2 linked regions of the Homo sapiens genome follow. The protein of the gene in region 2 interacts with the protein of the main gene of each other region in a pairwise test. Each region holds a gene or a part of one and is shown on either strand. Other genes may lie near its edges. The genes, in order: PEX3 and CRAT.

What was found.
Region 1: the proteins of CRAT (region 2) and PEX3 come close enough for resonance energy transfer, tested with the Homo sapiens proteins (one large-scale study listed by BioGRID).

Annotation. Positions count from the first base shown.
Region 1 is NC_000006.12:143,485,305-143,489,127, reverse strand, and holds part of PEX3 (peroxisomal biogenesis factor 3), read right to left. Parts: intron 1-3,823. UniProt on the Homo sapiens protein: Involved in peroxisome biosynthesis and integrity. Assembles membrane vesicles before the matrix proteins are translocated. As a docking factor for PEX19, is necessary for the import of peroxisomal membrane proteins in the peroxisomes.
Region 2 is NC_000009.12:129,103,971-129,107,793, reverse strand, and holds part of CRAT (carnitine O-acetyltransferase), read left to right. Parts: intron 1-3,487; coding exon 3,488-3,606; intron 3,607-3,823. UniProt on the Homo sapiens protein: Catalyzes the reversible transfer of acyl groups from carnitine to coenzyme A (CoA) and regulates the acyl-CoA/CoA ratio. Also plays a crucial role in the transport of fatty acids for beta-oxidation.

The sequences.
Region 1 (3,823 bases), on a different chromosome or scaffold from region 2:
ATATAACATTATAGTTTGCAAAACATATAGCTAATTTGAATTAATTTCTGCAATCAAGCGATGAATTCAGCTCTAAGTTTTGTGGTAAAGGCCAAGAGGCAAACCATTTAAGAAAATGAGTAGTTTTTCTTGTAATAAATTCTAGGAGATAGTTATTATTTAGGTTCTTATATGAGGGATGATGGTATCATAAGCGTTCAAGTGTGACTTTGAGGGACAAAAACCCCAAATAGTCTTCAAATGAATTTTGGTGTATGTCAAGTGCTAGATAGGTATCTGTTGAATAAATAATTGTAGGAGTAAAGGTACTTTTGCTGGAAGCTGACATAACACGGTTAAGGGTGTATTACTTTCTAGAAGATCTAACATACGGTATGAATATGTGTAGTAAGTGCATATTTTACATATACACACATACATGAACCACACATATACACTATAGTGTAAGGGTTATTAACACCCCAAGGGATTTGCGAATGTGAAGATAAGAAAAAAATTACACCTTCATTTTCTTTAACTTCTAACCAAAATCTGGTATCTCTTTCAATTATGAATGTAGGCAACAAACTGTGATAATATTAGCAGGTTGTATGACTTTGTCTTCAATAGAAATCATAGGCATTTTCATGTCATATGACAGTTGTGGAAGTTATCAGAACTCTCATTATATCTTGGTATTTAATGCATGAATAAAGAAGCAATACCGCTATATCATACACTTAATTTTAAAAGAAATTTTGAAAACTATATATGATTGGTTTCCTTTATAATATTATGTATTTTATTGTATGCACTTATAAATATTGTTCTGAGAAGGGGTCCATAGGCTTCACCAGTCTGTGAAAGGGTCCATGATAGAAAAGGTTGACAGCCTCTGAGAGTGTCAAAGAAATGGGAAGTAAACCTGTCCCTAGTGATCTCTGTTTCTTAAGTATCGGAAAATCCAAGTGAGGTTTAGACATGTCCTAATCTCAATCAATTCATGGTTAAATTATCTCATCAGAGAATTTGATGTTATTTAGTTTCAAGTATTCAGTCTAGGTGTTCAATGAAACATAGGTTTAGATCAATGTTTCTCAAACCAGAATTTACAGACATACTTTCAGGGGCCCAAGAATTTGAGGGGAAATTTTGTGTTTTGATTTCTATGAAAATGTAAAGAAAACTCAAACACGCTCTTGATTATTGAGAAGATAAAATATATAACCTACTATTGTTCCTGATTTTAGGGCATTTGTTTATATTTATGTTCTTATTGGCTTTAAGTAACATTACTTTAACTGTCTTGTGCTAATGAGAGAAGAACAGAGGCAGAAAATCTTTCAAATGAAGACCAAATCATGTAAAACACATGATACAAATGAAGCTTTCAGAATAGTTACAGTAGATAAAAAAAAAAATACTAGCAAGTCAGCTTCAGAAAATGCAGGCTGAATGCTCAACAGCATGAACAGTAGCAGACAGGTCCACATTCACTTTGGCACAACAAATTATTAATAGTAGACGTCAGCCATATTATAGAACAATCTTTTTTTGTAATTTAGATTCTACTTGACAATAAAAGTGCTTTGGTTTTGAGTTACGAAAAAGCTCTAATCTTAAGGATCTTATTGAGTTTTTAATTTATACACTAAAAATGATTTAAACACTGGAGGACTGTGGTATATGTGTGTACATATGTATGTGAGGTGTATGGACAAATCTGAGAAATACTACCATTGTAGTGCAAAAGCAGCCATAAACAACACATAAACCAATGGGCATGCTGTCACCCAATAAAACTTACAAAAGCTGGTGCTTGGCTGGATTTGGCTCATAGGTCATAGCTAACTTATATCAGCTTTATAATAAAGACTTTAATCTGTTCAAATACTGTATCCTGATGCAGCTTCTAGGATGTTTCAGTAGTCTGAGATAAAAATTATGTATCATAGGGTTGGTTCACACTATAAAAGCTCTTTCCTTATGTTATCTGAAAGCAATCTGAAATAATTTATCTCCTGCTTATGTTATTTGAAAGCTATTTGAAAATAATTTGAAAAACCACCTTTCTCGATTGTTTTCTGATTCTCCCATTTCCTACCTTTACCAACTACCATCCTAATATCTTCTACCAAAGGGGTCAGCAAAGTATGGCCTGCAGGCCAAATCCACTGCCGCCTGTTTTTGTATATAAAGTTTTGTTGAAACAGCCATACTCTTTTGTTCATGTACGTTTCTGACTGCTTTCACACTGCCAGAGCAGAGTTGAATAGTTTCTGTAGAGAATGTATGTTGCATTAAGCCTAAAGTATGTACTATCTGGCCCTGTACAGTTTGCCAAACCCCTGTTCTACAGCATTCCCACCATAGGCTCTCCTACACACCATTGTAGTTGAAGTAGTAGCAGTAATTCGAAAGGACTAATTTTATGTAAATTAGCATTCTAATCAAGGCAAAGGCTTTATAAAAAGATAAGTGGAAATAGTAAAGCATATGACAATTTATTAAGAAGACCACTTGGTATTTTAACTCATAGAAATTATAGTTTAAAAAATTAAACTATAATTGTAATAGCCTTGTCAATCAATGGTCTAGTATATACATTTAATATACATCCAGTTACAGTAAAAAACTTTACTAAACATTAGTATCAATGGCGTTTTTACCATATTGAAACATTTGTTTTTATTATCAATTATATCGATTTTAATTAAAGTGTAGTGCATAAAATTATTTAAGCATTAAGGCTGATGATGCTTTATGCTTGGTTGTAATTTCCACTCATCTGTCAAAATGAACAGCCTACTGGCCAAGCCAGGGACTTCTACAGAAGAGGACAAAGGTAAAGGTAAGGTTTAAATGCCCCAAGTTATGACCTTTTTCTCACATTGATATAGATGTGAAGCTTAACATTCAGTAAAATGAGATCAGTCTTATTCACTATTTCTTCTGCAATATGAGTGCCAAGCTCTTAGGGGTGAGAAAGAGGACAGAAGACTGAAGAGTCCAGTGTGGGAAAATGTGCATGTGAAGGACAGGCTGATGACACCACAGTGAAAGGAGGAAACGAACTCTTAGTCTCAGTGCTCTCCACGTTCCCAAGAGTAAAAAGTCTACAGAGAGGATACACTAAATTGTCTGAGACAAGTTACACTAAGAAGATGTCAGCTTTATGCTTAGGCCATAGGGTCTCTTCTCATTGTACATTATTGAAGCAGTTTGCAACTGGCATTGCAAACAATTTTTTAACTTATAACACAGTTTCCAAGTTTGCACATGACTCAGAAATTCAAAGTTATTTTGTTTATAATATTTGTCTTACTCAATGAATTACTGAATTACTCAATGAATTACTGAATTACTCCATGCATTCCAAATGGAAATGAAGAAATAAGATGGAGTTATAGGTAGTCTGATAAAACATTTAAATGACCCACTGTTTATGTGGCTTTTAGTGAGCATATTATTGATGCACTATTAACTGTTACATTTTATTAATCACTAAAATGCTTTACTTCTCCACAAATTTTTTTAGTTTTCCTCAAAATGTGTAGAACAGGATCCTTGATCTGCCCCAAGGATCAATCTTCTTACTAGCACAGCTTAATGCAAACATTCATGCTATATAAATTCAACTGACCACTATAATACACCTGGACTAAAATGTAGTCCCACAGTGTTGGACTACAACACGGAGAAAGGTACTCCAAACTTACACATTTGCTATGGTCCGTTATTACTCTCATGGGACACTCTACCATACTCTACATGTAGTTCCAAGTTCTGTGATTTTTTGAAAAAACCTCTCAGCAGAGAATGTAACTTTATGTTAGACAAACAT
Region 2 (3,823 bases):
TGTGACCTGCTGCTGGCTGCACATGCACAGTTCTCCAGTGCCCACTGCTCTGGCACGGCCGTTCGTTTGCTGCCCAGAGTTTCGTGAGCACATACTCTGTGTCTGGCACTTGGCAGGGTGCTGGGTGATCAAGAAGGACACAGTCACCAGCTCCTTGGAGCTAACATTCAAGTAGGGAGGAGAGAAAGGTAATGAACAGGATACAGGTTGTGGACAAGGTTTCATGTTCCAGGACAGAGGCAGGAGTGGGGTGCACGGCAGGTACAACCAGATAGAAGATGCCCTTGTGCTTGGTGGGACAGCCTCAGGCAGGGGATATGTGTCACTCAGTGACCGATCGCCCAGGTTCTGTATCTGATCTATGACACAGGTGTACCCAGTTTGGCAAATATGTCTACACCAATGTTTGGTGTGCTTTTCTATTTGCATCTCATACTTCAATACACAGATTTAAAAAGTGGCAGCTGGATGCAGTGACTCACACCTATAATCCCAGCACTTTGGGAGTCCAAGGCGGGCAGATCACAAGGTCAGGAGTTCGGGACCAGCCTGGCCAACATGATGAAACCCTGTCTCTACTAAAAATACAAAAATTAGCCAGGCGTAGTGGCACGCACCTGTAATCCCAGATACTGGGGAGGCTGAGGCAGGAGAATTGCTTGAACCTGGCAGGTGGAGGTTGCAGTGAGCCAAGATTGTGCCACTGCACTCCAGCCTGGGCGACAGAGCAAGACTCTGTCTTGGGAAAAAAAAAAGGTGACCCAGCTGCTGGGAGGGAGGCAGAGTGGAAGCCAGAGGCGAGGGGGAGGGGTGACATCACCCCCAAGGAGCTGTGGCAGCCTGGGTCTGACACCGGATGGGAGAGAGGGAGAGTCGTTAGGTCCAGGACTGTTTTGGAGGCAGTGCCAGTGTCACTTGCCAATGAGGTGGGGGCACGGGTGGAATTTGCCAAGTCGGGGTTGCCTGAGAGAGAAGCTACCTGTGGGAGAGCCAGAGCGGGTCCGGCCCTGGGAAATGCTGTGTTATAGGGGGTGCCATGGGGAGGGGAGGTAGAGCTCTAGCCCTGGGGCTTGGCGGAGGCTGTGGGGCTGCACACAGGAGGTGGGAGTTGTCAACATTTGCTGAGACGCGTCAGGTCAGGACTTTGGACTCCAGAACCAAGATGCTTCCCCCGAAAGGTCCTTAGAGCGTCTGGGGGCTGGTGGTTTTCCGACTTCATTTAGCCTGGGACTCCTTCAAACAGAAGCTCCTGGTTAAAGGGGTGGGGGCACCCCTCCTTCCACTCACGGGGCCACCGAAGGGTCTCCGCCACCACCTGGCAGATTCTCGCTGGGGGAGTACCCATACCTGCGGGGTCTCCTCTGGTCTCCCAAGCTTTGGCCAGAGGCTCTGGGATCCCTAGTGGAGTACAGGCCCCTGGCTGTTTCCCCAAGGGAAGGAAGCTCCTGTCTGCCCTTCACTGATCTACAGATGAGGAAAACTAAGGCCCAGAGAGGTGGCCCAAAAGCCCAGAGCCACACAGCAGCTCTCAAGGAAGCCCTCGGCCACACAGGAAGGTCTGACTGACTCAGGGACCCAGTTCTTAGGGGCTACCAGTCACCTGTTGTACAACTTGGGGACAAGTTGCCTCCCCCTCACCCCTTGCCAAGTTGCCTCCCCCTCACCCCTTGCCAAAGGCTAGTGGCCCAGTGCTGCAGGGGAGTGCGTGTGATGAAGAGGCGCATCCTGCTGCTGTTCACCACGGGTTGAGGGGGCGCAGGTGGGCCCAGGTCTCTGGGGGTGGAAGGCCAGAGAAAGCTGTACTGGCTGTGTGCAGGAAGGGTGGGTGTTGCAGTCAGCATAGAGGACACAGGGTGACAGTCACCTGGGAGTGTGCGCAGCGCCAGACATGGAGCCTTTAATACCACATCCCTGGCTGGTGCCCAGAGACCCCCCACCCCCCAGAGAGAGGACAGACCGTCAGGGCAGAGAGTAAGGATGTGTCACCCACATCTTGTCACTAGCATAAGGATTCATCCTTGCAGGGAGCATCCCCTCAAGATTGCCCTGACCTTGAGATCAAAGTGGGTATCTACTCCCCGAGGCCACAGGTTCCTCAGGCTGCTCTGATACCCCAGTCTCCTGCCTCCTTGGACAGTTCTCTGCTGGGGATGGTCAAAAACTCACTTATTGGGCCAGACGCGGTGGCTCACGCCTGGAATCCCAGCACTTTGGGAAGCTGAGGCAGGTGGATCATTTGAGGTCAGGAGTTCAAGACCAGCCTGGCCAACATGGTGAAAACCTGTCTGCAGCAAAAAATACAAAAATGAGCCAGGCATGGTGGTGCGCACCTATAGTCCCAGCTACTCAAGAGGCTGAGGCAAGAGAATCGCTTGAATGCAGGAGGTGGAGGTTGCAGTGAGCTGAGATAGCACCGTGGCACTTTAGCCTGGGTGACAGTGAGACCCTGTCTCAAAAAAAAAGTCACTCATTGGACTTTGTTTTTGTAGACCCTTCCCTTTTTTCCTTTCTATCTATTCAGGCATACATTTTAATTTAACATATGACAGTCATTGACAGAGAATGTGTAAGATGAGAATTTGTTCACCTTGCCGGGCGCGGTGGCTCACGCCTGTAATCCCAGCACTTTGGGAGGCCGAGGCGGGAGGATCACGAGGTCAGGAGATCGAGACCATCCTGGCTAACACGGTGAAACCCCGTCTCTACTAAAACTACAAAAAAAAAAATTAGCCGGGCACAGTGGCGGGCGCCTGTAGTCCCAGCTACTCAGGAGGCTGAGGCAGGAGAATGGCGTGAACCCAGGAGGTGGAGCTTGCAGTGAGCCGAGATCATGCCACTGCACTCCAGCGTGGGGGACAGAGCGAGACTCCGTCTCAAAAAAAAAAAAAAAGACCGGGCACAGTGGCTCATGCCTGTAATCCCAGCACTTTGGGAGGCCAAGGCGGGCGGATCATGAGGTCAGGAAATCGAGACCATCCTGGCTAACACGGTGAAACCCCGTCTCTACTAAAAATACAAAAAAATAGCCAGGTGTGGTGGCTGGCGCCTGTAGTCCCACTTACTCAGGAGGCTGAGGCAGGAGAATGGCGTGAACCCAGGAGGCGGAGCTTGCAGTGAGCCGAGATTGCGCCACTGCACTCCAGCCTGCATGACACAGCGAGACCCTGTCTCAAAAAAAAAAAAAAGAATTCGTTCACCTTGCTGCCCCTCCCCACACCCCGGGTTTCCTCCTGATCTTTCTTTCACATCCTTTCTTAGCAGCAGCATCGGATTGATCTGGCTAATACTGATCACTCGGGCTAAAGGGAAGAGGCTGGTGGGTTTAAGTTGTGGGGCAGGGAGGGTGGGTTCTGGATCTAGGCATTTACTTTGAGAATCTCCATAGCCAGGTAGAGGGCATGGGGGCCAGCCAGGTCCCCTAGCCCTGGGGAACAGGGGGCACCAGGGCCCATGCACCCCTCCTGACAGGCTCTGGCACTTTTCCCAGCTGTCTGAGTGGTGGCTCAAGACCGCCTACCTCCAGTACCGCCAGCCTGTGGTCATCTACTCGAGCCCAGGCGTGATGCTACCCAAGCAGGACTTCGTGGACCTGCAGGGTCAGCTCCGGTGAGTGGCTGGGGTTTGGGGGCCAGGAGGCAGCCGGGCCCCTCGAGTTCACTTCGCCCAGCCGCTTGGAGGGGCCCCGACCCTGTTTATCTTTCTGCCCCACAAGCAGCCTTATGAAGTAGGGAGCATCCTCCCTATTTTACAAATGGGGAAATTGAGGCTCGGAGCAGGGAAGGGAGCTGCCCAAGACCCCATTCAGGAAGCAGGGTCTCTCCAG